Regions from separate parts of the Homo sapiens genome. Here regions 1 and 2 are each linked to region 3. The links come from fine-mapping of genetic effects on gene expression. A gene starts in region 3. Each other region holds a variant in brackets. All regions are shown on one strand. Distances are between the middles of the regions. Region 1 has its middle 62 kb from the start of GK5. Region 2 overlaps XRN1 (5'-3' exoribonuclease 1). Region 3 holds the start of XRN1 (5'-3' exoribonuclease 1).

Region 1 (10,505 bases), 160 kb after region 3:
GACAGTGGGGTGTTAGAGTCTCCCATTATTAATGTGTGGGAGTCTAAGTCTCTTTGTAGGTCACTCAGGACTTGCTTTGTGAATCTGGGTGCTCCTGTATTGGGTGCATATATATTTAGGATAGTTAGCTCTTCTTGTTGAATTGATCCCTTTACCATTATGTAATGGCCTTCTTTGTCTCTTTTGATCTTTGTTGGTTTAAAGTCTGTTTTATCAGAGACTAGGATTGCAACCCCTGCCTTTTTTTGTTTTCCATTTGCTTGGTAGATCTTCCTCCATCCTTTTATTTTGAGCCTATGTGTGTCTCTGTATGTGAGATGGGTTTCCTGAATATAGCACACTGATGGGTCTTGACTCTTTATCCAATTTGCCAGTCTGTGTCTTTTAATTGGAGCATTTAGTCCATTTACATTTAAATTTAATATTGTTATGTGTGAATTTGATCCTGTCATTATGATGTTAGCTGGTTATTTTGCTCGTTAGTTGATGCAGTTTCTTCCTAGTCTTGAGGGTCTTTACATTTTGGCATGATTTTGCAGTGGCTGGTGCCGGTCGTTCCTTTCCATGTTTAGCGCTTCCTTCAGGAGCTCTTTTAGGACAGGCCTGGTGGTGACAAAATCTCTCAGCATTTGCTTGTCTGTAAAGTATTTTATTTCTCCTTCACTTATGAAGCTTAGTTTGGCTGGATATGAAATTCTGGGTTGAAAATTCTTTTCTTTAAGAATGTTGAATATTGGCCCCCACTCTCTTCTGGCTTGTAGAGTTTCTGCCGAGAGCTCTGCTGTTAGTCTGATGGGCTTCCCTTTGAGGGTAACCCAACCTTTCTCTCTGGCTGCCCTTAACATTTTTTCCTTCATTTCAACTTTGGTGAATCTGACAATTATGTGTCTTGGAGTTGCTCTTCTCGAGGAGTATCTTTGTGGCGTTCTCTGTATTTCCTGAATCTGAATGTTGGCCTGCCTTGCTAGATTGGGGAAGTTCTCCTGGATAATATCCTGCAGAGTGTTTTCCAACTTGGTTCCATTCTCCCTGTCACTTTCAGGTACACCAATCAGACGTAGATTTGGTCTTTTCACATAGTCCCATATTTCTTGGAGGCTTTGTTCATTTCTTTTTATTCTTTTTTCTCTAAACTTCCCTTCTCGCTTCATTTCATTCATTTCATCTTCCATCGCTGATACCCTTTCTTCCAGTTGATCGCATCGGCTCCTGAGGCTTCTGCATTCTTCACGTAGTTCTCAAGCCGTGGTTTTCAGCTCCATCAGCTCCTTTAAGCACTTCTCTGTATTGGTTATTCTAGTTATACATTCTTCTAAATTTTTTTCTAAGTTTTCAACTTCTTTGCCTTTGGTTTGAATTTCCTCCCATAGCTCAGAGTAATTTGATCATCTGAAGCCTTCTTCTCTCAGCTCGTCAAAGTCATTCTCCATCCAGCTTTGTTCCGTTGCTGGTGAGGAACTGCGTTCCTTTGGAGGAGGAGAGGTGCTCTGCTTTTTAGAGTTTCCAATTTTTCTGCTCTGTTTTTTCCCCATCTTTGTGGTTTTATCTACTTTTGGTCTTTGATGATGGTGATGTACATATGGGTTTTTGGTGTGGATGTCCTTTCTGTTTGTTAGTTTTCCTTCTAACAGACAGGACCTTCAGCTGCAGGTCTGTTGGAGTACTTGGCCGTGTGTGGTGTCAGTCTGCCCCTGCTGTGGGGTGCCTCCCAGTTAGGCTGCTTGGGGGTCAGGAGTCAGGGACCCACTTGAGGAGGCAGTCTGCCCATTCTCAGATCTCCAGCTGTGTGCTGGGAGAACCACTGCTCTCTTCAAAGCTGTCAGACAGGGACATTTAAGTCTACAGAGGTTACTGCTTTTTGTTTGTCTGTGCCCTGCCCCCAGAGGTGGAGCCTACAGAGGCAGGCAGGCCTCCTTGAGCTGTGGAGGGCTCCACACAGTTGGAGCTTCCCGGCTGCTTTATTTACCTAAGCAAGCCTAGGCAATGGCGGGCGCCCCTCCCCCAGCCTCGCTGCCACCTGGCAGTTTGATCTCAGACTGCTGTGCTAGCAATCAGCGAGACTCCGTGGGCGTAGGACCCTCCAAGCCATGTGCGGGATATAATCTCCTGGTGAGCCGTTTTTTAAGCCCATCGGAAAAGCGCAGTATTCGGGTGGGAGTGACCCGATTTTCCAGGTGCCATCTTTCACCACTTACTTTGACTAGGAAAGGGAACTCCCTGACCCCTTGTGCTTCCTGAGTGAGACAATGCCTCACCCTGCTTCGGCTCACGCACGGTGTGCCCGCCCACTGACCTGCGCCCACTGTCTGGCACTCCCTAGTGAGATAAACCCGGTACCTCAGATGGAAATGCAGAAATCACCTGTCTTCTGCGTCGCTCACGCTGGGAGTTGTAGACCGGAGCTGTTCCTATTCGGCCATCTTGGCTCCTCCACCAGGGCTTTATAACTTCTATTGTTCACAAGCATTGTCATATCATTAATTATGTCTCCATGAACCCAAAACTAAGTTTTGTTCTCAAGGCTCAGTAATAACAACTACTACTACTTATGGGATATCTACTAGGTAGGTACCAATCAATTTATATAATACTTTCAATCCTCCAAACACTAATAATATTATAATAATATAAGATATGGGCTGGCTGGGCATGGTGGCTCATGCCTGTAATCCCAGCACTTTGGGAGGCCGAGGCGGGTGGATCACGAGGTCAGGAGATCGAGACCATCCTGGCTAACATGGTGAAACCCCGTCTCTACTAAAAATACAAAAATTACCTGGGTGTGGTGATGGGCACCTCTAGTCCCAGCTACTCGGGAGGCTGAGGCAGGAAAATGGCATGAACCTGGGAGGCGGAGCTTGCAGTGAGCTGAGATCGCGCCTCTGCACTCCAGCCTGGGCAACAGAGTGAGATTCCGTGTCTAAAAAAAAAGGTACAGGCTGGGTACAGTGAGTGGCTCACACCTGTAATTCTAGCATTTTGGAAGGCCAAGGTGGGTGGATCACTTGAGTCCAGGAATTTGAGACCAGCCTGGCCAACATAGTGAGACCCCCATCTCTACAAATAAAAAAAATGAGCCGGCCATGGTGGTGCACACTTGTAGTCCCAGCTACTCAGGAGGCTAAGGCAGAGAATTGCTCGAGCCCAAGGAGTCAAGGCTTCAGTGAGCCATGATCACACCACAGCACTCAGCTTGAGTAACAAAATGAGACCCTGTCTCAAAAAATTAAAATAAAATAAATATATCTCATTTCACAAATGAGAACACTAAGACACAAAACTGTTAACTTGCCCAAAGATAGTTGCTGAACTGAGATTCAAAATAGGCCTGTTGAATCCCAAAACACATGTTCTTTCTTTTCCTTTTTGAATTAATTTTTAATTATACAAGTAACACATGGCTACATCTCCTGGTGAAGCAGCATCACTGTCTAGGGTAAATATCCAGGGTTCGTCATCTCATGCTAAGAAAATTAAGGGCACAGACGTGGGTGGATTAAGGAATGGAAAGTTTAATAGGCAGAAGAAAGGAGAGAGGAGAGCAGCTCCTTGCAAGAGAGAGGTGTCCGAAAAAGAGAAAAGCAGTGGAGTGCAGCAGATTTTATAGGCAGGCTTGAGGAAGCAGTGTCTGATTTATGTAGGGCCCATGGACTGGCTCAATCAGGTTTGACATTTACGTAGCACTCAAGGAAGGCTTGTCACCCCACCCTAATCTTATTATGCAAAAGGGCTTTCCACTTGGCCAGCACCATCTTGTCTGCTCCTTACTGTACATGTGGCTGACAAAGAGAAGGGAAGATGAAGCCACCATTTTGAACATCCCTAGTCCCATGTAGTATTTTTCTATTGGCACAACTGCTGGCATTCACTTGTGCAAGCTTCCAGCTTGCTTGTTCATGTCTGCAACTCAATTTTACAGACTGTTATTTTTTAGAAAAGAAAATGATTTTGGGGCTGCTTTTTATTAAAATGAAAACCTTACCAAGGACTCCCGTGCCCACAATATCTGCGTAAGTAATTTGTTCTTAACTCCTGTATCATTCTGCCCCTCAGGAGTGGTAAGCCTAACTGCTGTTAGGATGTGTTGGACGACAACTCTTTCTGGCTACTTCCTGCTGAAAAGTGGTGTCATGTGGGGAACAGCAGCTAGGGCTCTTCCTGGGGTTGGTCTAAGGTTCCACAGAAGAAAGGCATGTCCATATGTGTTTCTATGTGCAGCAGCATTGGAGGTTGATTGCAGTCACCTATTCTGATGGATTGTGATACTGGTTTGCCTCCACCAGATGCTGCTGAAACATTAATATAAAAGTAACATTCTTTTAGGATAAGCGACATTGGATTTGGGTGACTAGAATAACTTTAGTGTTAACCTGAAATCTTTCCTGCAATTATTGATCCCTTCATGACTTTCACAGACCATTTATGACATGCTTAGACTTTCTGGCTTGTCCTAAACATCCCTCTTTTTAAACAACCAGTAATTCTCTTTAGGACAAGAATTTAATATACAAGATCCCTTCTTATGTAAAGTTTATTTTCTTTATAACCCTCTTTGCATAGCTAGGGTGTGACACATTACCGAAGCCAGTAAAAAATCTTGGCAGACTCAGTGATAGTAAAACCTTCATGTTTACTTCTTGATCGGTAGCTATTATCCCTGCTATAAGTATAATAATTAAGCAAAATGCTACAACAATGGAAACTCTCTGTCCAATATTTCAGTTAGAAGGTGCTATCATATATGGCTTTACTGCAAATAGTAGAGTGAGTATTGCAATTCCTGCAAGGGTGGCATAGTGGATTATTTCCATCTAAAATTTTACTTTCCAAGATACACAATTTCCCTTTGGAGGTTTATGAAGTTCCTTGGCTTTATTTTCCCAAACAAAGAAACCTCTGGGTTATGGACACCCTACTAACTTTCATTACCTGGCAGGATTTTCAGGATAATTGCCCAGAACTAGCATATTGATCCAGATTTTTACATTACCCATCCTTTTGTGTTTCTTCTGAGCTGCAGGAGATCAT[G/T]ATTTGATTCACAGGAATAAGCAAGTTTAGTCTAAAATGTAGCAAAAAAAACTTAAAAACAATGAGACTAGAATTTAATGACAAATGTATAAGTTTTGGAATACAATTTTTCTCCTTGTTGTCCTCATTTTGGTAAAAACAAATTATGATAGGACCATGTTATTCATAGAATAAATTTTAGTCTTATACTTGACCTGATTATTTGCATAAAGTCCAGCAAGAATAACTATTTCTACATGGGCCTTTTGGGTTGAGTTTGATGGAACTCTATTCCCCAGGGAAACTGAAATAAGAATTTTTAAAGCCCAGCCCAGCCATGGGATTGTATTCTCAAATGCCTGTGAATTGGGTGATCCTCTCAAGATAAACTTGGAGCTCCTGGACCTGTTAGAAAGTGACATTCTTTACTGACAACAGGTCAGGAACGCTGTATGGGGACTGTGTAGACAAGGAATGAGGCCAGTCTTCCCCAAGGGGCTTTTATTTGCTCTGCATGTCAAGCTCGATTCCTTAAAGGGAAACACATGCTTCCAGTCAAAGCACTGGTAAAATAAGCACTTTTTTTTCCAATGGTGTCCTGTTGCAAAAGAAAAATGGATTCTTATTGCACTGATGCCAACAACCATGTTGCCATAAGTTAATAATACTCACAGATAGTTTCCAAATTCCAGAGGAACCAGACAGAGAGAAATAAACATGCTCCAAATTTTATGAACAGGAGTATACCTTACTCATGAGGTATTATTATTATTACAGGCTGTAACTAGTTCAAAATAAGTTTCCTTGACTCTGAAAAACAAAACAAGGATCAGCAATATTCCAAGCAAAAGTTGAAAAGGTTGCTTTAGCTTTCTGAGTTCACTTGGTTAACTCTTGGTTTTGTTGATATTTGTGAACATTTTAGCTTTTCATGAGTTCTGTACTTTTTTTTATATTCCAATGTTATAATCTTCAAAGCTATTAGAAACCTGCATTTGAGAGCACCTGTTAACATCTTATAGCTTGACTATAAATCATCTTTTCAGAAGGAACAAAGCAAGACAATTGTCTGCAAGTGAAAAAATTTCCAGGGTACAGTTAAAAATGCAACTGATAAAGAAGTTTGGTTATCTCTATGGTTTACAATGACTTAACATAACAACCTTAATTATGATGATAGCATATATTCAGACATTAGAATTTTAGAAATCCCCAATTTTGGAACATATATTAGTATTATTCACCAAAATATAACTTAAAGATTGAACATCATTTTGGCAATCCCATCTAACTAAACATATCAAATAATTCTGTTCACCACCTCTCTGGATGCTTCAGGGGCCCTCTGAACCATCCAGAAAGCTAGACATCAGGAAAGGCAATTTTGAAATTTGAAGTTTGATTTTGGGGAGGCTGTTAAATATTAGAGGTTTAAAACACTTGATTTTATGAAGTAGAATTCCAGATTACAATAAATTATTTATTTTTCCAAAATGATGACTCAAAAGGCAAAAACCTTTTATTAGCCTTTACTATTACATGAAAATCCTATTCAAAGCAAAATTTTACCCTTGCATTAGTTTATTGTTAACCCCAATTTTTTGATGAAACCTCATAGACAATTCCATTTCATCTTAACCAATTTGACCATGAGGTGAAATCTTTACAAACCTTTTATAACCCTTTTGCTAAAGGGCAGATTAGCGTTTTAAGACAACCTTTATTTCAATGCTTAATTTATGAAATGACCATATAATTCCCTTTTGAATTTAGTTAATGTTTACACATGGAATTTTTGCAAGATTAATTTTTACAACCTTTCCATAACTTGCTTAAACCTTCAGCTTTCTTATCTAACTTAAGACAATCTTTTATGACTAGGAAAAATGTACATTTCCATGCCTTCTCATAATCTTTTACTAGAAAATACATTCTACTGTTTTTACACATCTTGCATATAAATTTATTTTTAGTAGTTTAAATTACATGTTATTGAAGTGGCTATGTTGTCTGGGGTAAATACCCAGTGTTCATCATCTCATGCTAGGAAAATTTAAGACACAGACACACATGAGGAGTTTAGGAGCAGAGGTTTCATAAGCAGAAGAAAGAGAAAGGAAAACAACTCTTCTAGTGAGAGAGAGGGGGCTTCTGAGAGCAAAAAAAAAAAACTGGCCAGCAATGAATGTGCTGGATTTTATAGTCAGGCTTGAGAAGGCAGTGTCTGATTTACATAGGGCTCACAGATTGGTTCAATCAGGTGTGACGTTTACATAGCTCTCAGGGAAGGCTCCTCATCCCACCCTAATCTTATTATGCAAATGAACTCTCCCCTGGGCCGGTGCCATCTTGTCTGCTCCTTACTGTACAGTGGCTGACAGATAAGGGAAGATGGAGCCACCATTTTGAACATGTCTAGTCCCAGCTAGTTCTTTCCTACCTGCATTCATTCCTGCAAGCTCCCAGTTGCTTGTCTATGTCTGAGGCCCAACTTTACAGGCTGCTCTTTGTTAGAAAATGATTTGGGCTGCTTTTCATTAAAAGGAAAACCTTACCAAGCACTTCCATACCCTCACTATCTGCCTAAGTAATTTCTTCTTTGTCAGGCCTCTGAGCCCAAGCTAAGCCATCATATCCCCAGTGACCTGCACATATACATCCAGATGGCCTGAAGCAACTGAAGATCCACAGAAGTGAAAATAGCTTAACTGATGACATTCCACCATTGTGATTTGTTTCTGCCCCACACTAACTGATCAATGTTGTTTATAATCTCCCCCACCCTTAAGAATTTTCTTTGTAATTCTCCTCACCCTTGAGAAGTTACTTTGTGAGATCCACCCCCTGTCCCCAAAACATCGCTCTTAACTCCACCGCCTATCCCAAAACCTATAAGAACTAATGATAATCCCACCACCCTTGCTGACTCGTTTTTTGGACTCAGCCCGCCTGCACCCAGGTGAAATAAACAGCCTTGTTGCTCACACAAAGCCTGTTTGGTGGTCTCTTCACACGGACACGTGAAACATTCTTAACTCCTATATCATTATGGTGGTAACTTTGGGTAATTTTTAACTTTACTGTGAAACCTGGTAGGTTGTTTTGATTATGTATTAGGCATAGATAAAGTCTGACTTTTTCCAGCATACTTAGGGGTGTGGTTAATTTCGTATGTCCCCAGGCCTTACCAAGTTGTAAAGCAGGTAGTTTACAACCTTGGAACATTTAGCAAACCTAGTATCTGACTTACATGATTTAGACCACCTATTTACATGTTTATGACCCTTGTATTTTACCAATAATTCTTAAGACTATTTTTATTTCTTAAAGATTAAAGTCATATGAACTAAAAAGCATTACAGCTTTTTATTTTTTCTTTAAAAATACTTGATTTAAGCACTCATTTTTCTTTAAGCCAATCAATTAGAGCTCTTTTTATAGACATTACACACAACACATATATACACAGACAGACAGAAGATTCAGCACTTCTGAGATTTTTCATTTGTAAGTTTATTAATTGGATTACCTGCTTCAGGGTAAAGCCCTTGGAGGAACAGGAAGGAATGCATTTTTAGGGCCTAATAAGCAGGCACAGCTGAAGGCAAAGACAGATCCCCAAAATTAAGGGTGCCATTTTATACTGGATCTTGGATCCCCAGAATGAGGGAGATGCTACAGGAGGAGGCAGTGCAGTGCTTCTACCTTGCATATCATTGCAAGGCAACCCAAAGCCAATTGGCTTGTTTTGTAATTAGCCCATCCTCCATGGAGTCTCATCTCTTAATGGGGAGTGGGGATGTTTCCATATCTTCCAGGTGGACAAGAGCATGCTTCTCTGATTCAAATGTGCAAAGAGTTAAGTATCCCTCCATGAACACTATTAGCCATCCCTTAAAGTATATTTCCTACCTAGTTATTACACACCAAAGCTCTCTCATACTGCAAGGTAACTTTTGATACCCCCAAAACTTAAAACCATCAGATAACACAATGCAAAACAGAACAGAGCCTTTGATTTTGAGAGGGATCCATCCACTTTCAATTCCTGGGGTTACATGAGGAAAATAGGGGGTTTTTCCCCCAAAATGGAATCTATGGTGCCTCCTCTGTTTTTCCCAAGGAGTCCCAGGCTACCAGAAGTTATCTTAGGGCCTCTCATGTGTGCATTAAGAGTGGAAAGACAAAAAAATGGAGAAAAATAATTCAGTCGACTGAGAAGAAAAAACCTTTTTCCAGAAAAATAAGATCCAAGAAGAGAAAAACGTGAATGCCTTTTAAATATACCTATAACTTGGCTATCCATTTTTAATTAAGCTGAGCACTATTTAAGAAAATCCTTTTAAATCTTTTGTTACTCGACTTCAGCCATGCAAAACAATTAAGATTTTCAGCTTTGGAACTTTACAAAAAGTAACCCCACAGGTGAAACCAACAAGCCTTAATTAGGTTATAACTTAACCTCCAGTGTATGAGGTATTTTCAAAGGGGTGGTAAGCAGCTTTTGAAACCATCATTGCAAAACTGTGACTGAGACAGTGAAAGAGATCCAACCCAAGTAACTCCATCTTGCTCCAGCCTGCAAGCTGTCCTTGCCCATCCCTCGGCATGGGCCGAACCAACTTTGGGAGAACCCTGGTTTGCAGTTTATAGTTTAAAACAAAGATGATAACAGCCCCTTCCTAAGGTATACTTCCCTCTTGCCTGGGGACCAGACAAGAAACTAGCCACAAGATTAGAAACCATGGCCTAGAAGTCATGCAGCTGGAGGTTACAAGATTTTGACCCTCCCTAAGCTGCTCTCAAGATCAGCACTTAAGATATTTTGTAAACCCTGGCCTTGATGGATCATCTGGCACCACCCAGATTGATAAACTGGCTTATCTGATTTTGTGGCCGCCACCCAGGAACTGACTTAGCACAAGAAGACAGCCACCATTGTAAAATGGAGACTAAAAGTATTGCCACGTGGTTACAGGTCATGTTTCCAAGGACACGAAACAAGATGGAGGCCTGTAGCCAAGTTTGTTACTGATCATTTTGTTAGGCTGGCTTGAACAGCAGTCTTATGCGGTCCTGGCCCTGCATCCTAAGGTACCCTTTCTTTTGACAAAACCATGCAGAAAGACACACAAAACACAACAGATTGGCTACAGCTTAAGACCAACCGCACAAATCCTTTTTCACTAATTAAAACTTTATATAGAGAATATAAACAATAATCCTTATTTCCCCTTTTACCAGTTTACTCAGGGAAAGAGAAGCCAAAAGCTCAACTGGTAAAAAACAAAACAAAACAAACAAAACACACACATAACTTTTACCCTTTTTTCAGCATGTCAGGCTTCTGGGTTCCTTTACCCCTAGCTCAACTCTAAGCCAAGCATTTTAAGGTTTGAGGAAATTAGCTCTTCCCAGGTTGGAAGAACATTATAAAAGAAGAGATAGAAGCCATTTTAAACAACGAAAGAAGGAAAATTACCACAGAAAAGTCTGGG
Region 2 (10,505 bases), 40 kb after region 3:
TCTTCATTATGTGCATAAAAACTTCCAGGTATGCCAATTATAATAAGGCTGAAGTGGCTTTACTATTATTAGACAAAGTAGTCCTCAGAACAAGGAGTAATATTACCGGAGATAAAGAGATATTTTATACAGATAAAAGAGTCAGTTCAGTTCAAGAAGACATAAAAATCCTAAATATGTTGTATCTAATAACAGAACCTAAAATACATGAAGCAAAAATTACCAGAATTATAGCTAGAAATTTCAACACTTTTCTCTGAAGAATTAATAACACAAGAGGACAAAAATTCAGTAAGGATGGCCGGGCGCGGTGGCTCACGCCTGTAATCCCAGCACTTTGGGAGGCTGAGGCGGGCAGATCACAAGGTCAGGAGATCGAGACCATCCTGGCTAACACAGTGAAACCCCGTCTCTACTAAAAAAATACAAAAAATTAGCCGGGCAAGGTGGCGGGCGCCTGTAGTCCCAGCTACTCGAGAGGCTGAGGCAGGAGAATGGCGTGAACCCCCGGGGGCGGAGCCTACAGTGAACCGAGATCGCGCCACTGCACTCCAGCCTGGGAGACAGCGAGACTCCATCTCAAAAAAAAAAAAAAAAAAATTTTCAGTAAGTATAAAGAAGATTTGAGTAATGCTATAAACCTACTCATAGAATTAAATTAGAAATAGTAACAAAGATCTGGGGGATCCCCATACATTTTGAAACTAAATAGCACACTTCTAAATAGCCTATGATGAAAGAAGAAATTAAAAGAAAAATTAGAAAATATTTTGATCTGAACGATAATTAAAATACAATACATCATAATGGGAGCTGAGCATGGTGGCACACATGCTGTAATCCCAACACTTTGGGAGGCCAAGACGGTAGGATTGCTTTTTTTCCCTCAGGAAAGAAAAAAAAGGGATCCATGGTCAGTATGATACGACTAAAGCAGGGCTTAAAAGGAAATTTAAGGTTCTAGACGCTAAACAAGAAAAAGGTTTAAAATAAATTACCTAAGCTTCTAACTTAAGAAGATAGAAAAAGAAGAGCAAATTAAACTCAAGCAGAATGAAGGAAATAAAAAGAAGCAGAAATCTACAGAAAATGAACAAACAATGGAGAATAATTAATGACATCAAAAGTTGGTTCTTTGAAAAGATTAATAAAGTCAGTAAATCCTACCTAGACTAATCAAGAAAGTTAAATAAAAGGGGGGAAGGCAGAAATAAATTACCAATATTGGGAATGAAGAGGAGCTATCTTATAGTTCCTTCATATAGTAAAAGGTTAGTTAAGGAATGTTATGGTCAAACTTTATGTCAACAAATTCAACAACCTAGATGAAGTGAACATATTTCATCACAACTTATCAAAACTCACAGAAAAAAATATAAAAATCTGAATAGTCTTTTGTGTATTCTAGGCCCAGATGTCTTCACTTGTGAATTCTAGCAAACATTTAAGAAATAATGCCAATCTTACACAAACTTTCAGAAAACAGAAGAAAGGAAATTGCTTCCCAACATTTTATTAGACTAGCATATTCCAGAGACCCAAATTTGACATGGCATTAAAAGAAATGAAAATTACTGACTGATACTCCTCCTAAAAGTAGATGCAAAAACTCCTAAGGAAATAACATGAGGCCGGGCACGGTGGCTCATGCCTGTAATCCCAGCACTTTGGGAGGCTGAGGTGGGTAGATCATGAGGTCAGGAGATCAAGACTGTCCTGGCTAACAAGATTAAATCTCGTCTCCACTAAAAATACCAAAAATTAGCAGGGCGTGGTGGTGGGCACCTGTAGTCCCAGCTTCTCAGGAGGCTGAGGCAGGAGAATCGCTTGAACCCTCAGAGGCAGAGGTTGCAGTGAGCAGAGATCCAGCCACTGCACTCCAGCCTGGCAACAGAGCCAGACTCCATCTCAAAAAAAAAAAAAAAAAAAAAAAAACATGAGATAGAATCTGACAGCGTATAAGAAGGATAATACTCATGACCAAATGGGATTTATTTTAGAAATACAAAGTTAGTTTGCAATGTAATTTACCACATTATCAATATTCAACATCCAGTTTTTTTTCCACCTTCCACTATCTGACCAAGAATATTTTTTTCACAAACATCCAGTTTTAATAGAAATGTTCAACAAACAAGGATAACAGGAAACATCCTCAACCTTATGATAAAGGCATATAAAAAATCTTACTGCAAACAACATACTTAATAGTAAAAGAAGGACCAATTTCCTGTAAAGTCAAGAATAGGACAAGATGTCCATTCTAACCACTTCTTTCTAACGTTTTACTGGAGGTCCAGTGTGTTAAGATGAAGAAAATAAGTAAAATTGTTTTTAGTGGCAAGTGGCATTATTATCTATGTAAAAATTCTAAGAAATCTTCAAAAGAGAAACTTTAACTGATAAGTAACTTTAGCAAGGTTACAGAGTATAAGATCTGTACAAAAACTAATTGTATTTCCATATACTAGCAACAAACCATTTGAAAATACAAAACTTTTAAAATAAGAAGCTTAAAGATTCTGCTTAAAATAGCATTTAAAAATATAAAATACACAGCTATAAACTTAACAACATATGTGGAAGCCCTCTACCTTGAAAGAGATGGAAAACCTAAGTAAATGAAGGGATTATATCATGTTCATGGATATGAAGACTTAATATTGTTAAGGTGTACGTCCTCCTCAATTTGATCTTTAAATTCAATCCCAGTGAAAATCCTAGCAGGTTTTTATATAATTGAAAATATGATTCTAAAGTTTTTATAAGATTGCAAAGGAGAAAACCAAAACAATCCATATAAAGAACAGTGTTGGAGGACTTACATGACCTGATTTCCAGACTAACCATGAAGCCACATTAATCAAGACAGTCTGTTATTGGTATAGCCATAAGCAAATAGATAAATTGGAACAGAAATAGTCCACCCAAATGTATGTTTATGCAGTTAATTCATCTTCAATTAAGGCACCAAAGCATTCAGTGAGTAAAGAAAGTGCTTTTCAAAAGTTGGTGCTAGAACAACTGGCTATATTTGTGAATAAAAGTGAATCTTGACCCATACCTCACACCATACACAAAACTTAATTCAAAATATGTCATAGATCTAAATGTATTAATAAAAGCTAAAACCATAAAACTTCTTGAAGCAAACTTAGGAGAAAATTTCAAGATTCTGAAATCACTAACCATAAAGGGAAAGAATTGAGAAAATAGATTTCACCAAAATCAAAAAAATTTCCATTTATCAAAAGATGCTATTTAAAAAAGAGTAGATAAGCCACAGTGTAGGAGAAAAAAAATATATGCAGAACATACACATGCATGAGACTGGTATCCAGAGTATATAACCAGCTCCTCCAACTCAAGTTAAAGACACAACCCAATTTTTTAAATGGCAAAATATTTTTGAAGGGCCATTTTCACAAGGCAAGATATACAAATAATAAACAATGGAAAAGTGCTCAACATCATTAGGCATCAGGTAAATGTAAATTAAAAGCATGATAAGATACCACTATACCATAATCCCAGTTGAATGGAAAAAACTTAAAAGGCAATACCCAATATTGGCAAGAATGTGGAGCAATTGGAATTTTTATACACTGCTAATGGGAGTATAAGATGGATAAAAGCACTTTTCATATCTATCTGGCAGTTTCTTATAAAGTAAATTATACACCTAACCCTAGGACCCAGCAATTCCATTCTTAGATATTTACCAAGAGGAGGGGAAAGTATGTTTAAAAAATGTTTTGTACAAGACTATTCATAATAACTAAACTGGAAACCGCCCAATACCAGTCAGCAGGACAATAGATAAGTAAATTGTGGTACAGATTAAGCATCCCTAATCTGAAAATCAGAAATTTGAAATGCTCCAAAATTAGAAACTTTGAGCATCAATCTGATGCCGCAAATAGAAAATCTGCACCTGGTGTCATGGGATGGGTTGCAGTCAAAATGCAGGTGCACAACACAGCTTATTTGCATCGCAAGGGATAGAAGACCCTCCCAGCCCTTTTCAGCTGCAATATACCTTTTCTGCACACACCCAGATTCCCCCACCCAAGCACCCCCACAAAGGGTAATAAAATGGCACATGTATAGGCCAGATGCGCCAATGGCAGGTTCCCCACAATGCCCCAAATGGGCCCCAGGCCTATGTGCATTACTCACTGTATTACTTCGCTTATTCTTTAGTCTGGTGTGAAGATAGTGTTGACAGTGTCAAAAAGGACTGCAGCTACCCCTATGGGTGTTGGTGTCAAGAAAAATAGGAAGCATTTATGTTTACCTGTAGCATAGAAAGTCAAGTTGTTGGAGAAACTAGACAGCGGTGTGTGAACTGTCTTTTAGAAGAGTATGCTATTAGAATGTCCATATATGACCTGAAGAAACAGAAGGGTAAGCTGTTGACATTCTGTGCTGGAAGTGATGAGCAGAAGTTAATGAAAAAGAGAATACTGCATAAAGCTACAAATGAAGATATCAATCATGTATTGAAGTACTGCATTTGTCAGCATTGCTGTGAATACATGCCATTTAATGGCAGGCTGATAATGAAACAAACAGATCTATCACAGTGAACTGGAAATTGAAGAGAACTGTGAACATTTAACAGACTGGTTGCAAAAGTTTAAAAAAAGACAGTGCTCTCTTCAGCAGTACATATACTTAAAAAAAAAACTGGAATGATACAAAGAAGATTAGCATGGCCCTTGCGCAAGCATGATATACAAATTCATGAAGCATTCCATGCTAAAAAATAGTAATGATAAAAACAAAAAAGTAGGCCGGGCACAGTGGCTCATGCCTGTAATCCCAGCACTTTGGGAGGCCAAGTTGGGTAGATCACTTGAGGTCAGGAGTTCAAGACCAGCCTGGCCAACATGGTGAAACCCTGACCCTACTAAAAATACAAAAATTAGCCAGGTTGGTGGTTCATGCCTGTAGTCCCAGCTACTCAGGAGGCTGAGGCATGGGAATTGCTTGAACCCAGGAGGTGGAGGTTGCAGTGAGCCGAGATTGTGCCACTGCACTCCAGTGTGGTGACAGAGTGATACTCCATCAAATAAATAAATAAATAAATTTTAAAAGTCACAGCATTGAATTTTTAAATGTTTGGGATGATAAAGCACCTGCTTATCATGAAGCTAGAGAAATTCAATGACACGTTTGCCAGGGTCTTTGCTAGTGATGTTGGAACAAGTCTGTAATGCTGATGAAACATCACTGTTCGGGCATTATTGCCCCAGAAAGACACTGACTGCAGCTGATGAAACAGCCCTTCCAAGAATTAAGGATGCCAAAGACCAAATAACTGTGCTGAGATATACTTA[C/G]GCAGCAGGCATGCATAAGTGTAAACTTGCTGTTATAAGCAAAAGCTTGCGTTCTCACTGTTTTCAAGGAGTGAATTTCATACCAATCCATTATTATGCTAATAAAAAGGCATGGATCACCAGGGACATCTTTTCAGATTGGTTTCACAAACATTTTGTACCAGCAGCTTGTGCTTACTGCAGGGAAGCTGACTGGATGATGACTGCAAGATTTTGTTATATCTTAACAACTGTTGTGCTCATCCTCCAGCTGAAATTCTCATCAAAAATAATGTTTATGGCTCACACCTGTAATCTCAACACTTTGGGAGGATTGCCTGAGCCCAGGAGTTCAAGCCCACCCTGGGCAACACAGCAAGACCCAACCTCTACCAAAAAAAAAAAAAATGAACTGGATGTTGTGGTGTATACCTGTATTCCCAGCTACCTGGGAGACTGAAGTGAGAGGATCACTTGAGCCCAGGAGGTTGAGGCTGCAGTGAGCCATGATTGCCTCACTGCGCTCCAGCATGGGTGTCAGAGCAAATCCCTGTCTCAAAACAAAAACAAAAATGTTTATGCCTTTTTGCCATCTACTTTCTCCCAAATATGACTTTATTAATTCAGCCATGTCAGCAGTCATATCCAAAAAATTATTGCCAAGAGCAGTGTCAAGAAGCTTTTGTCCTGTGTTTTATTCTAGTAGTTTTATAGTTTAAGGTCTTAATGTTTAGGTTTTTAATCCATTTTGAGTTGATTTTGTTTATGGTAAGATAAAAGTCCAGTTTTATTCTTCTGCATATGGATATTCAGTTGTCCCAACACCATTTATTGAAGAGGCAATCCTTGCCCTGTTGTGTGTTCTTGGCAACCTTGTCAAAAATCAGATGGCTATAAATTATGGATTTATTTCTGGGCTTTCTATTTTGTTCCATTGGTCCATATGTCTTATTGAAAATACTTTTATGTATGTTTACCTTTTCCATTTTCTCTTTTGTAATTTGCTTGTTTATATTCTCTCCCCATTTCTCTTTCTTTTTTTCTTTTGATTTTTAGCTACTTTATATATTAGAAATAGTTTTCCCCAGTATCACATCTGTCTCTTGATTTGTATATGGCATCTTCTGTCATATACATTATCTTTTACTTAAAAAATGTCTTTCCCCTTAAGGCTGTTCGTTTTTTTTCTGTCTTCCTTAAATAAAACTTTATCACACTAAATTATCAATACCACCTAGATTTTCTTCTGATACATTTGTTATTTTGTTATTGTGATACTTGTTTTTATATATGGTAGGAAGTTCAGAAGTGTATGTGCTTTTTTTTCAGCTGGATAGCTAGTTAGGACATTGTCATTATTTAAATACCTAAAGGACTGTTTTGGCATAGATTTGGGTCTATTATTGAACTCTATTCTGTTCTTCTGGTCTGTGGGTCTCTTGTAGTGTCAGTACTAGTGTTTTGATTACAGTAGCTTTATCAAAAGTGATAGAATCTGGTAAGACAAGTCCCTGGTTACTTTTTACTGTCCATACATTTATTCTTCCATATTAACACTGGTATCTTATTCTTTTTTTAAAAAAAAGATATTTTAAATCATTGATGTCCTGACTGGAATTACTTTAAATGTATAAGTTAATTTGGAAAGATGGACATCACTATACTACTACAGAATTTGTAAAGTAAGAGATTAATGCTCTGTGAATTATGATATAGTATTATAATAGATTCACACTTAAAATTTGATTTTCTGCTGCCTTGCTTATTTGCACTTTAGTGGCAACTGTTGGGGTAATAGCTTCAGAGAACTTTGCAGTGGTAGCAGTATTCTAGGGCCCTTTGAAACAATAAATAGCATATTTTTCATGCAATAAAATGGAAGAGTTTCATTAGTTAAGATTTTGGTTTTTTGTTTTTCAAGAGCACAAATGGTTATTCTGTATATGGAGGAAAAAGACTTATTCTGTTTGTTGAGATTATGGAATTTTTATGCTTGTAACCCTTCTCTTCAATCCTTATATTCAGAAGCGATTATTGGAAGCCATGGAGACATGTAACCACTCCCTCAAAAAGGAAGAGAGGAAAAGAAACCAACATAGTGAGTGCCTAATGTGCTGGTATGATAGAGACACAGAGTTTATCTATCCTTCTCCATGGCCAGAAAAGTTCCCTGCCATAGAACGATGTTGTACAAGGTAATGTTACTTGGTAATTTTTCAACAACAAAAGAGCGCTCCTAACACAAGGGTGCGAGAAGTGGTGAAGGGGGAGCTTTGAATATCTGTTTGGAGAATTAGCAAATAGTTTATGACAGTTATAGTCAATTGATAATCAATGAGTTACATCTAACTTGCAGAGGATCTAAGGATCTTTCACACTTGTGTCTATAATTCTCTACTTTGGTCAGATTCTTTGTTTCTCTTTCCTTCTTCTATTAAAAGTGTTTGAATTTTTTCTCTCTAATGTATATCCCTGCATTTTGTCTCCCTCGAATGGATATGTGAATTTTTGTTTCCATTGTCAGTGTTTCTGCTCCCAGCATTATTTGATACGCTGTGATATTGATTATACCCCCCAGCCACCCAACTAGAAAGAAGGAAATAAGAAATAAAGAGCTCCATTTTTTTCTCTTCATGAAAATATCTTCCTTTTTTTTCTCTTCTCTCACCTTCCCTGCAAATAATCTACCCAGATGGCAATTGAGTTGCAAATAAAGTAAACATCTCTCAGTTACAACTTTTCCTTTTGTTAAAGGAAAGAGAAAGATAAAACAGGCATTATAAAATGTTTATTTTCCATCCTGGGTTTTGGAACATGGAGGATATAGAGATTTGTGTTATGTGTCATATTTTATCTTAAAATTTATATATATAGTTTTGTTTTAGATTAATGGGGAAAATCTCAACTTAGTAATCTACAGGCATGATTGTGTCTAGACCAGTAACAATAGAGAGGCTGGTTATCTGCTTGTGTTTTCTTTGTCTGGAACTAATTGTCATTCTCTTCTTTAAAAGCAAGGATGACTCTTACGAAATATACAAGGGAAAGTTAAAAAACTGTAATTGTTTGTAATGTATTAATTTTAAATTAAATGCCTTGATTTATTTTCTAGGTATAAAATAATATCCTTAGATGCTTGGCGTGTAGACATAAACAAAAACAAAATAACCAGAATTGACCAGAAAGCATTATATTTCTGTGGATTTCCTACTCTGAAACACATCAGACACAAAGTCAGTGGCTATTTAGTTCAGAATTTTTTCACTTTATTAAGTGTGAAGTGATTATGGAGAAAGAATTAAAATTAAATTATTTGAATTCTTTTAAAGTTTTTTTTGAAGAAAAGTGGTGTTCAAGTATTCCAGCAAAGCAGTCGTGGAGAAAACATGATGTTGGAAATCTTAGTGGATGCAGAATCAGATGAACTTGTAAGTATTTTATTTATCATTCATTTATTAGATGCCTATAATGTATTAAACTGTAGCTGCTGGGATGTTTACCAGGGAGGTATTATATGTTGTAACTCTAGAAATTTGGAGCCTAAATAAGGATGAAGCAAAGAAACATTCATACAAATTAGATAATAGTTCAAGAACCTGTATCACTGTGACACAATGAATATACAAATTTTCTAGAAATTTTAAAAAGGAGAAGAGCTATGTAAACCAAAAGTTAAGTATAGACTTGTAAATGAGAATAGGCTTGAGCTGAGGACTGAAAAACAGGTTAGGACACAGAAAAGGAGGGGAAAGGCATTCTAGTCAAAAGAAATATCATGAGCCAGTCATTTCAGTCAAAAATGTCATATATTATTGTTTTTAACCTTTTTGTGTATCTGAACTATTTCTTAACACTTAGTCTTTTCTTTAGAATAAATGTGATATATTTGAGGAGAAGGAATAAATAAGCCTTATTGAAGCAGAGGATTTGTGTTTGGAAATAGTAGAAGATAAGTTTGAAAAATCAGATTGAGGCCAGATTATGTCGAACCTTGAGTACCAGGCTGAGTTTGGACTTATTTTCCCATGACCATTATTTTGGAATTGATATTTTCATAAAGATTAATTTGGTGGCAGTATAATAAACTAAATTGCACAAAAGAGAAATCAAAGAAAGCGGGAAAGCTTGCGAGTGTAGCATCAGGTGATAGAGACATAAACTTCAGAAGTAGCAATAGATCTAGATGAACAAGATGAAATAAAACTGATAGGTTTCATTATTTGGTCAAATACAGGGGGTGAAAAGAGAAACTATTAATAGTAAATGTGACTGAGATATCCAGGCTAATTAACTAAAAAAAAAATTGTAATTTACTGGACTAGAAAAGTTAAAACAGGGGAGTTGATAGTTTAGGGGGATGAAATGATAAATAATGATGGAATTTTAAGGTAACACTAGGATGTTTAACCGGAACTGCCTTGCCAGCCTTTCTTAACCAGTATTCCACAAGATGTATAAGCCCTAATGCCCTAAGTCATTCATTGTAAGCAATAAATTAACTTATCTTCTGTGCATTTAGAACAGTAGGAGTTATGTACCATCTTTGAGAGAACAGAGAAAGTAGACGTATTTTGTGTTCTCTGATTCAGATGAAAAACCTGTTTAGAAAGTCTGTTTATGGCTGGGCATGGTGGCTTACGTCTGTAATCCCAGCACTTTTGGAGGCTGAGGCGGGCATATCATCTGAGGTCAGGAGTTCAAGACAAGTCTGGCCAACATGGTGAAACCCCATCTCTACTGAAAATACAAAAATTAGCCAAACTTGGTGGTGGGTGCCTGTAATCCCAGCTACTCGGGAGGCTGAGGCAGGAGAATTGCTTGAACCCAGGAGGTGGACGTGGCAGTGAGCCAAAATCGCGCCACTGCACTCCAGCCTGGGTGACAAGAGCGAAACTCCATCTCAAAAAAGGAAAAAAAAAAGAAAGGCTATTTATATACAGTTAAATACCTGGAGCTAGAGCTTGGAGAGAGAGAAGGATATTCAAGTTGTCAACAGAGAATTGATGACTTTGAGGTTCATTTCCTTGAAGACAAGGTGCATTGAGTGTTCATGGTCTCAGCATAAAGAAATGCCCACAGTTATAAATGGTGGAGAGGGAGCCAGTAGAAACAGAGAGGTTAGGAAGAGTGATTCCAAAGTTAAATAGTACCACAGAAGCATGGAGCAGAGGATGTAAGCTGCAT
Region 3 (10,505 bases):
GAGAAAGAAGGTTTAGCTGCTTCTTTAGTTCTTCTAAAAGAACTAAAAGAAAAATTTCTTTTTCTTGCTCTATTATCTTCATCTGTAGGGTGAGATTAATATTTCCAGAATTGTGGAAAAATTCACTCTGTAGCAGTTGAAGAGCAGATGGTCTCTGGGACATGTTCCTTTTCGTTAAGTGATAGATATACTTGGCTTGTACTGGATACCTTTTACTGAGGGATTCCAATATCTGACCAGTTCTTGAACCTGTTAAAACTTCTGCTCGCTCCATTTCTGTTCTAAACAGCTGAAAGAGCTCTAGCAGGATCACACTCAAGCTATATACATATCTAACTGGACAAAGCCAGCCCTGGTCTCTACAAATAGTTTTTGTTTTTTTTTAATTAGCTGGGCTCAGTGGCACACTCCTGTAGTCCCAGCTACTTGGGAGGCTGAGGTGGGAGGATCACTTGACCCCAGGAGTTGGAGGCTGCTGTGAGCTATGATGACACCACTGCACTCCAGCCTGGGCAACAGAGTGAGACCCTTGGCATCATACTCAGATCCTTCCAACTGCTGGGATGAAGCATACAGACAAGTGCCCACTCTGGATATAGGTGTTGGTGTTCTCTTTCTGTTTCTATGGGTCCAGTCTGTGTTCTTTTGTAAGATGTCTGGGCAAGCCAGACCAAAGTCTCCTATTTTTACTTGCTGATCAGGGCCATGAAGAAAAATATTTCTAGGCTTCAGATCTCTGTTTACAATACCCATGTTATGTATGTAAAACACACCTTCCACTAAATCTTGAAAATTTTTTGTTGCAACACTGGCCATAAGGACAGGCAAACTTGCCCACACACTCTTGGCCCTGTTTGTTTCTCTCAGCTAGCCAGTCCCACAGCTGGAGCTTGCACACCTGCATCTGGATGTGCAGCATCAGGTGGTACTGCACCTCGATCCCCAACAAGTTGAAGTTTTCTTTGGAAGATTCCTCAGTGGATGTGAAATTCTCCTCTAGGAGGGAATTACACCTGAGCAGCAGGGGCTGTTTCACAATTGACCAGGTAGACAAACCAGCCAGGCCATTTTCCTGGAGCTCCAGGGATGATTCATATTCACTGGTGTCTCTTAAGACGGAATTGATGGTGTAGTTCACAGCTTGTTGTTCTGATTTTGAGTGTCAGATTCTGCAAAGGGTTTTTCTTTTCTGAGGTGAGCTCCGCGAAGATAATGGGTGAGCTGCTATTTTCACCATTTTTAACACCGTATTGGTATCTGTCTGCTTGGTCGGAGAACACTTCCAGAAATGGCAACTGAACGGAAGCTCTGTCTGCTTGTGGTTGGACCACTTGAACATGTTCTGTCCACGCAGTGTGATAACGAATGATATTAGGGTGCTGAAGACCTGCCAGCACCTTCATTCCCCGTAGTTCTTTCATGTAATGTGTTTTTGTTGCACCCTTAATCAGGATTTTTTAAATTGCATAATACTGACCATCTAATTTATTCCTGACCTTGTATACTCTTCCATATCCACCTTTTCCTAAGATGGCAAGTTCTTCAAATTCATTTAAGTAACGTGAAGTTTGTGCTTCAAAGGGTACTTCCCTTGATCTGATTTTCTGGATATGAGAAATAGCCTCACAAGGATCCTGATGAACTCTCTCTTTAGTGGACCTCATTAAGTGAGTAATAGCTCTGTGGTGATGTAGTCTCAATGAGCTAAACTTGTCACAAGTGAAAGAAGACAGCAGCCCCATTTTGATAAAGGTCTGGCAAAGTAACTTAAACACTGTCTTGAATGAACTGGGTTTGGTTCACGCACATGGCTCAAGTGCTTCACCAAAGAAATAAGCGGCAGCTGGTTTGCAACTGCAAAAGGGAAAGTTGGCTGTTGTAGGGGTTATTTTAATACCTGGAGTTCTGCTGGAACATAAGTCATATTTGGAGTCCAGGCTCTTGGCGGAAAAGTCGATGGCAGATGGCACAGCAACAGTCTCCACCCCGTGGCCCTCCTCTTTGTGCTCGTGGGCTGCAGCGCAGCCCACCAGCCCACCCAGCACCACCTCTGAGAATTATTCTTCTAATAACGTTATTCTTCCTTTTGCATTCAGATATGCTTAAGAAATTGTACAGTTCCAAGTAGCTCACTTAGAACACCCATTTGCATGTACTAACATAATGTAAATATTAGGCAGTACAGCATTGTTATTTGAATATTCATTGAAATGTTTAAGTCCTAAACACTTCCAAAGCAGATTTAAAAAATTATTTTTCTAGAATTGTAATGTGTAAATAATTCCCTGGTATTTCACGTAGTCCAGAAACATGTCCAAGCAGTTGATGTTGAATCAATCTTGCGAGCCTCCAAATCAGTATCACAAGCTAACTGTATTTGTTTAATTTCTTCTTTTCCTGTATTTGCTCTTACAAAAGGGGTATTGGTCAGTAAAATGGTATTAACATTTATTAAATGTCAAAATATAAAGAAAGGTAGTAATTCCAAATTATTAACATCTGTTTTTGGTTTTATGTTTCTTCTTTTTAGGCCAAGACCCATGTTCTTGACATTGAGCAGCGACTACAAGGTGTAATCAAGACTCGAAATAGAGTGACAGGACTGCCGTTATCTATTGAAGGACATGTGCATTACCTTATACAGGAAGCTACTGATGAAAACTTACTATGCCAGATGTATCTTGGTTGGACTCCATATATGTGAAATGAAATTATGTAAAAGAATATGTTAATAATCTAAAAGTAATGCATTTGGTATGAATCTGTGGTTGTATCTGTTCAATTCTAAAGTACAACATAAATTTACGTTCTCAGCAACTGTTATTTCTCTCTGATCATTAATTATATGTAAAATAATATACATTCAGTTATTAAGAAATAAACTGCTTTCTTAATACATACTGTGCATTATAATTGGAGAAATAGAATATCATGTGTTCTTATGGTCAAAAACTATATTTGCAAGAAACAAGCAAGTCTAATTTCATTTTACAACTTCTATTGATTTCCTTTTAAAAGTCCTAGCTATTGTAAGGATTCACTTGAAGAACAAAATTATATGGAATAAATACTGTGGGCAAGGCGTTGTGCCAGACTTGTGCATAGAGCTACCCTCTCCTGCCCTCCAGGAAGTGACAGTCTAGTAAGAGAGATATATAAATATAAATAGCATATCATTAAGTTCACTTAATAAAACTTTGTTTTAAAGTGTGATAGGGAAAAAATATAAGCCAAGAAGCGTGAATGTGAAAACGAAATAAACATTCTGTAATTTGTGTGATGCTGCCATACTGCAGTCCCAGAATGCAGAATCCAGTGGTCATGAAAGACAGCGATACTTAACATTTCCTGAGATCTTAAAATCCAAAAAGTATTAAATGTTTAAGGTTTTTCTGTAAGTTTTCATCCAGAAGACTTAAATACAAAGTAACGGGTTAATACATTCAAATAAGTGGAAAACTCTTACATTTAAAACTGATAATTTCACTTAAGTTGATAGAACTCTCCTTTGCTGTGCGGTTGAAAGTGTGATGGGGAAAAATATGATAAACCCGGATGCAAGAATGTCAAAACTAAACATTAAATGATTTCGTATCCAAGGTCTTATGTTAACAGTTGCGGGGGGCGGGTACATGGGAAATTTTTTTGAACAATTTGGAAAAGAACGTTTTTAAACGTATGTATTAAGAAACGTAAGTTTAAATTCCTCAGAGAAAAAAAATTATTGACAAAACAACAAACTAAGCCAAGTAAATCACCAGATCTTTCGAAATCTGAATGAAAAATACTGAGATTAGCAACCCTAGGAGACAAGCGGAACAAAAATCAGTGTTCGATACCCTTCCCACACCTTCGTACGGTTTTCATGCCACTTCCAAATCCACTTAGAAAGCACAACTCTATCATGGGGCATTTTCGCCCCTAAGTTGCAACACACCAGCAAACCTCCGCAGATTCCCTGACCGCCACTGGACAGTACCGCGGCCCCGGCCGCGCGAGGCCCGGAGGGCTAAGCCCCGCCCCTCGGACGGCCTCGGATCCTGCCGCTCTAGGCCCGCCGGGCGCTCTCTATGGTCGGCCGGGCGGTGTGTTGTCATCCGCGGAGCGACGACCGGAGGCTGCGGCGGAGCCCCGGCGGGGCGTTTGGTTTCGGTTTGGCCCTGACTGGGATTAGTGTTGACGATCGAAATGGGAGTCCCCAAGTTTTACAGATGGATCTCAGAGCGGTATCCCTGTCTCAGCGAAGTGGTGAAAGAGCATCAGGTGGGTGAGCGAGGGGCAACGGCTCAGAAAGCCGAGGACCCGGGGCTCCGCGGCCCTCTCCACCTTAGAGCTGGGGCTTTCGAGCCACCTCTTTCCCCTCGTCGTCTGGACGATTAGTGGCATTAGGGAGGGGGACGGAAGGTTTGAGGACGCCCGGATGAGCCGAAAGGGGCTAAGGACGCAGGTTGCCTGTGTGTGGACAGAGCCGCTGGGTTCACGGCTTCTCTGACAGCTCTTGCTTCTGCTGGTCCTTCCGCGACTCCGAAATGAAGTCCTGGGAAAGAACGCTTTTACTGTTCTCCGGTTTCCTCCCGGGGAGCTGCAAGTTGCCTTTTTCCTTACAGAGGCTGCGAAGCTGGAGTGGGTGTCCTCGTAGGTTCCCCCATCCCACCCAGAGCGGCAGACCCACTTACAGACGATAACAGCCGCTTCCGCACGCAGTCACCTTGTTTACTTTCCCTGATCTAGAGCGCGGCCCACCCGGCCCCCGGAGCCTAGACTTTCCGACGTGGCTGATGGTCATATTGGTGATGCCTTTTGTTACTTTCTGTTATTTCAAAAGCAGCACCAATCCCCTGTTGCCAAAACAAAAAACTCTTGGGCCAGCTGGGGAGTGGGGCGTAGGACCTTTTATTTGGAGGCCTCACTGTGTGACAGAGGGGGTTGGGAAACGAATTGATAGAACATTAATACTACTAATAATATTTGGCATGTACTGACCCCAGGACAACGTTAATGTGTAGATTCCGAAAACGTAGTTTATATATTGGAACTGTGGAAAGAGAGGAGAAAGCAGTCGTCTATTAGGTAAACTAGACTTTGGGTGATACTTTGGTGTTTGTCACATTTAATGAATTTGATCTCTTTTCTGATGCTTTACAGAAAAAAAGCTTGAAATTTGTGTAGCTGATTGAATCAGTTGTGATGGGTAGTATTGTAAATAGCCTATTAAATTATGGTTTAATCGGCATTTACGAACATGAAGGTAGTTTACTTCTGGAAAGGAGTTTTTGTTGCTGGATTCCAATCAGATTTGGTAGATGAGAAATAGACTACAAAAAGTTTCCAAGGTTAGCTTATCTTGAATTTATTTGAAACATAGATTGAGTTAGGTTTAGAGAGGTATTTTTTTCCCCCGGGGAGGGCTAAAAAGGAAACCAGTACATTGCAGAAATGGAGACAACCAACTTTGGCTTTTCTTGCATCCTTCAGTCAGTACCTGCTATATATCAGTCACTTTATCTCTAAAGTGCAAAAATAATGCGATTGTTATTCGTGATGATTTAATACATAATTTGTTCAGTAATATTTTTATTCTGTAGTCTGTGGCACAGAATTTGGTTTGGTGAAAATATCTTAGATTCTCTCCATCCTGAGGAATTTTGTTACTGAAGAATGAAAATCTCTTTAATGCAGTTTTATGACATGGACACTAAGGATAGGTTTTGTGAAAGCTTTATATAGAAACTGGGAGGAGAATTATTTTTAAATTTCACTGTAAATAAATTTTAAAATTTGGTTCATTGTTGTGATACCTTTCAAAAATGTTTGATTAAAAAGAGACCAAAGGTTATCAGCTTCTCTGTTAAGTAGAACTTAAAGATGGTAATGCCTAAATAAGTCACAGGCATTCAAAAGCTAGTCCTGGGCGGGAAGGATAGGGAGAAGAAGTAAGTTACGGGAAGTCAGTGGTGTGGCCTCAGTAGCATAGGTTTTCAGTTTCTCTGAATCATCTTGTAAAAACAGAAAGAGAAACTAGAAACCAAAGTTTAAAATCCATAAAACAATTACAACAAACCATGTGACATGCTATCCCCATGAAACTCAAAACATAACTAGGTGAGGCAAACTATCAATAGTCTCTAGACACCGTTGATATTGCCATCTGTGCAAAAGCGAGAAGGAAGCAATGGGGCAACATCTGATGAACCTTAGAACAGAATTCCAGAATAGCCAGCGGTATCCACTAAAAGACTGTGCTGGCCAATTAGATAGCGGTAGCTGAAACAGAGGAGTTTTATTCACTCCATTATTGACTGGGTGAAGGTCTACCATAAGAAAGACCAAACAGGCAGGAGTAGTCTACCTCCTGTGAACACTCAAAACTGACTTGCCAAGGTGCCATTCTAGACCAGAGCCCTAAGGAAAAGGGAGTGGAATAAAGTCTTACGGAAATGTTATGCTGGAAGTGGAATAAAATTTTATGAAAGGGACAATAGAGACAAGAAGAGAAGGAGATAGACCATATAAAAGTGAGGCAAAGTCATAGAATCAAGAAATCTTAGAAAACAAACCACAAAGCAAACCACTGTATTTTTTAACACTACCCAGAAACAGCTTTGTGAACTTATATTCCCTGAACCTCTACTCATTCTAAAAGTTCAAGAAAATTAAATTCACATAAAAATGAGCTACAGAAAGGTATTGAGATCAAATTACATACAAAGTTATTATACGAGAAAAAGGGACAGAGTATCTCTCCAGACATAAAAACTTGCAATGAAAAAAATGCACACAAAATAGACCAAAATTATAACCAAAACTATTATCTATTTCACAATGAGTTAAAAGGCATTAAGAAAATGAGGTAAGACATGAAAGAACAACGTGTATCAATTATGAAAATGTGAGAATGAGATGACAGAGAAAGTTAGAAGTAAATGAAAAAAAAATGCAGAGCTGAGCCTCAAATAGAAGCAAGACGAGCAAATGATACCATTTGAGAAAACAATCGGCAGTGGAAAGATGAAATTTTAAAAAATAAAATAGATTTAAAAGATTCAAGAAAAAGTAACGATAAGAAAGATAGGCAAAGAAGACAAATAGTAGAGGTGCCTGAAAAAGAAAAAACCAAAGCAGCATAACAGAATGGGTACTCAGTAAATATTTTTTGAGTGAATTAATTTATTAGCTATAGCATATAGCATATAGAAATGCATATTAAAATAGACATGGTATATTAGTATGTTGTAAAACAGTATTTTTTAAAAAAGTGAAATGAAGCCTGGGATTATTATGATTATTTTTTTTTATGAAACATAGTGTATATACTTATGGGGTTCATGAGATGTTTTCGTACAGGCATGCAGTGTGTAATAATCATATCATGGAGAATGGAGTATCCATCCACTCAAGTATTTATCCTTTGTGTTAAAATCTAATTACACTCTTTTAGTTGTTTTTAAATTATTGCCTATCGTCACCCTGTTGTGCTATCACATAGTAGGTCTTATTCATTCTTTTTTTTTATTTTTTATTTTGGATACAAGGTCGCGCTCTGTCACCCCGGCTGGAGTACAGTGACGCAATCTCGGCTCACTGCAACCCCTGCCTCCCCGGTTCAAGCAAGTCTTGTGCCTTAGCCACCCAAGTAGCTGGGATTAGGCGTGTGCCACTACGCCTAGCTAATTTTTGTGTTCTTAGTAGACATGGAGTTTTGCCGTGTTGGCCAGGCTCTTCTCCAACTCCTGGTGGCCTCAAGTGATCCGCCCACCTCAGCCTCCCAAAGTCCTTGGATTATAGGCATGAGCCACCGTGCCTGGCCTGTGTTTTTTTGTTCTGTTTGTTTTAATTTAAATCTTTTTAAAAATAGAGATGGGTTTTTGCCATGTTGCCCACTCTGATCTTGAACTACTGGGCTCAAGTGATCTGCCCGCCTCGGCCTCCCAAAGTGCTGGGATTACAGGCGTGAGCCCCCGTGCCCAGACTAGGTCTTATTCGTTCTTTCAGTTTTTCTTTTATACCCATTAACCTTTCCCACCTCTCCCCTGACTCCCCGACTACCCTTCCCAGCCTCTAGGAACCATCTTTCTATTTTCTATGTCCATGAGTTCTATTGTTTTGATTTTTAGATTCCATAAATAAGTGAGAACATGCAATGTTTGTCTTTCTGTGCTGGACTTATTTTACTTGACATAATGAACTGCATTTCCACCCATGTGGTTGCAGATGGCAGGATCTCATTCCTTCTTGTGGCTGAATAGTACTCCATTGTGTATATACCACATTTTCTTTATCCATTCATTTGTTGATGGACGCTTAGGTTGCTTCCAAATCTTGGCTATTGTGAACAGTACAGCAACAAACAAAGGAGTGCAGATATCTGCGATATACTGATTTCCTCTCTTTGGGTTATATTAACACAGATAGCAGTGGGGTTGCTGGGATCATATGGTAGCTCTATTTTTAGTTTGTTTTTGTTTGTTTGTTTGTTTTTGCAGTTGCAAGATTTAATAGAGTGACATAGAGTGAAAACAGAGCTCCCATACAAAAGGAGGGGACCCGAAGGGGGTTGCTGTTGCCGGCTTGAATGCGTGGGTTTACATCCCGATCCTTGTCCCTCCCACTGTGCTGTCAGGCAGTAGATGATTGGCTATTTCTTTACCTCCTGTTTTGCCTAATTAGCATTTTAGTGAGCTCTCTGATTGATCAGGTGTGAGCTAAGTTGCAAGCCCCGTGTTTAAAGGTGGATGCGGTCACCTTCCCAGCTAGGCTTAGGGATTCTTAGTCGGCCTAGGAAATGTAGCTAGTCCTGTCTCTCAGTCCCCACTCTCAGCAGGAAAACCTAAGTGCTGTTGGGGAGGTTGGCCGATGACTGCTCTAACTGCTTCCTGCTGAATTGGCACGTAGTAGGGGTGGTGCAGTTGAGATTTCCTCGGGAGGGGTGCCTTTGATGTCATTAACATCAGCGCATGGGCTAACAGGCCGGTCCAGGGGTCCGCGGTAGATCTTAGTCATGGACTGCATCTGGGGCTCCATTTGAAGAACGATTTGTAGTTTTACAGCTTCGATTCTGGAAGAGACAAACTTAACAAGGAGGTTAAAGATACAGGGATTGGGCCGGGCGCGGTGGCTCACGCCTGTAATCCCAGCACTTTGGGAGGCCGAGGCGGGTGGATCACGAGGTCAGGAGATTGAGACCATCCTGGCTAACACGGTGAAACCCCGTCTCTACTAAAAATACAAAAAATTAGCCGGGCGTCGTGTTGGGCGCCCGTAGTCCCAGCTACTCAGGAGGCTGAGGCAGGAGAATGGCGTGAACCCAGGAGGCGGAGCTTGCAGTGAGGTGAGATCGCGCCACTGCACTCCAGCCTGGGCAACAGAGCGAGATTCCATCTCAAAATAAAAATAAAAATAAAAAGATACAGGGATTGAAATGTATGGCCTGCAGTGCAGATTATTTCTTTGGCACACTTTACAGGCCCTAACTATCTGCTTGATAGTTTTGAAAAGGCCTGGTCCAGTAAATAATAATTTGGCCATCTGATGGGTGCTATCAATGCCTAAGTGAAAGGTTTGGTGAAGGGTTTTAAGTAATTTCCATTGGTTAGCTGCAGGCAAAAGTATTTTTCTTTCTTCGGTGGCTAGCCATCCTGAGGGGAGGAAACTATGTCCTCGTGAGCTTCCCCATTCTATTTCTTCTTCTGAGTACTGGGGCTTGGTTTCCTGGAGGGGATTACCCCATACTAGGGGTCCTTCTATAAGCATTTCTAATGGAGGGTCCTGCCTTGCGGCTCTTTTGGCTTCAATATCCTCTTGGCGGTTCCTTTCTATTTCCCGTTCCTTTCTGATGACCCCGGCAGTGTAAGACTGCCACCTCTTTAGGTTTCTGTACAGCCAATAATAATTTCCTAATGGCTTCCTGATGTTTGATAGGTGTTCCCTCCAAAGTTAGGAATTCCCTTTCTCTCCATATTGCTGCATGGGCATGGAGGACTAGGTAAGCATATTTAGAGTCTGTATATATATTTACCCTTTTTCCTTCTCCTAATTCTAGTGCCCAAGTGAGGGCTATTAGTTTTGCCAGCTGAGCACTAGTTCCTGGAATGAGGGGATTATTTTCAAGTATTCCATTATCACTGACCACTGCATACCCTGCTTTTCAAAGTCCTTTTTCTATGAAGGACTTTTTGTATACGAATTCATTGTATGTATATGAATACGAATGAATTGTATACGAATTGTATGCGAATTCAGTATACAAATTGAGGTCAGGATCCGTCAAGGGAACCTCTGAAAGGTCCCCTCGAGCGGCTTAGGTTTGAGCAATTACTTGTTGACAGTTATGTTCTATCTTTTCTTCATTGTCTGGAAGAAATGTGGCTGGGTTAAGAGTTGCACAAGTGCACAGTCGCAACACTGGCCCTTCAAGTAATAGAGCCTGATATTTAAGTAAATGGTTGTCTGAGAGCCACAAGTCTCCTTTAGCAGTGAGTATACCATTCACATCATGAGGTGTCCAC

What was found. PIP is the estimated chance that this variant, and not a neighbour inherited with it, causes the effect.
Region 1: its variant is the best candidate, but not a certain one, in a credible set for the expression of XRN1 in blood mononuclear cells (TOPMed, PIP 0.56).
Region 2: its variant is the best candidate, but not a certain one, in a credible set for the expression of XRN1 in whole blood (TOPMed, PIP 0.78).

Annotation. Positions count from the first base shown.
Region 1 is chr3:142,282,134-142,292,638 of GRCh38, reverse strand. No RefSeq gene overlaps it. Among named protein-coding and RNA genes, the nearest start is that of GK5, 62 kb to the right of the region's middle. RefSeq lists an enhancer at 7,138-7,432. The variant G/T (reference allele first, on the strand shown) is at 5,029.
Region 2 is chr3:142,401,918-142,412,422 of GRCh38, reverse strand. XRN1 (5'-3' exoribonuclease 1) reads left to right here. Exons shown (of 41, transcript NM_001282857.2): 16 at 7,347-7,516; 17 at 8,434-8,554; 18 at 8,651-8,749. It also overlaps the pseudogene RNU6-1294P. Among named protein-coding and RNA genes, the nearest start is that of XRN1, 41 kb to the left of the region's middle. The variant C/G (reference allele first, on the strand shown) is at 5,343.
Region 3 is chr3:142,441,628-142,452,132 of GRCh38, reverse strand. XRN1 (5'-3' exoribonuclease 1) reads left to right here and starts at 4,096. Exons shown (of 41, transcript NM_001282857.2): 1 at 4,096-4,263. The coding sequence starts at 4,189. It overlaps ATR (ATR checkpoint kinase), which reads left to right. Exons shown (of 47, transcript NM_001184.4): 47 at 2,531-2,898. The coding sequence ends at 2,704. It also overlaps the pseudogene EIF2AK1P1. RefSeq lists enhancers at 4,099-4,378, 5,911-6,270 and a silencer at 7,846-8,052.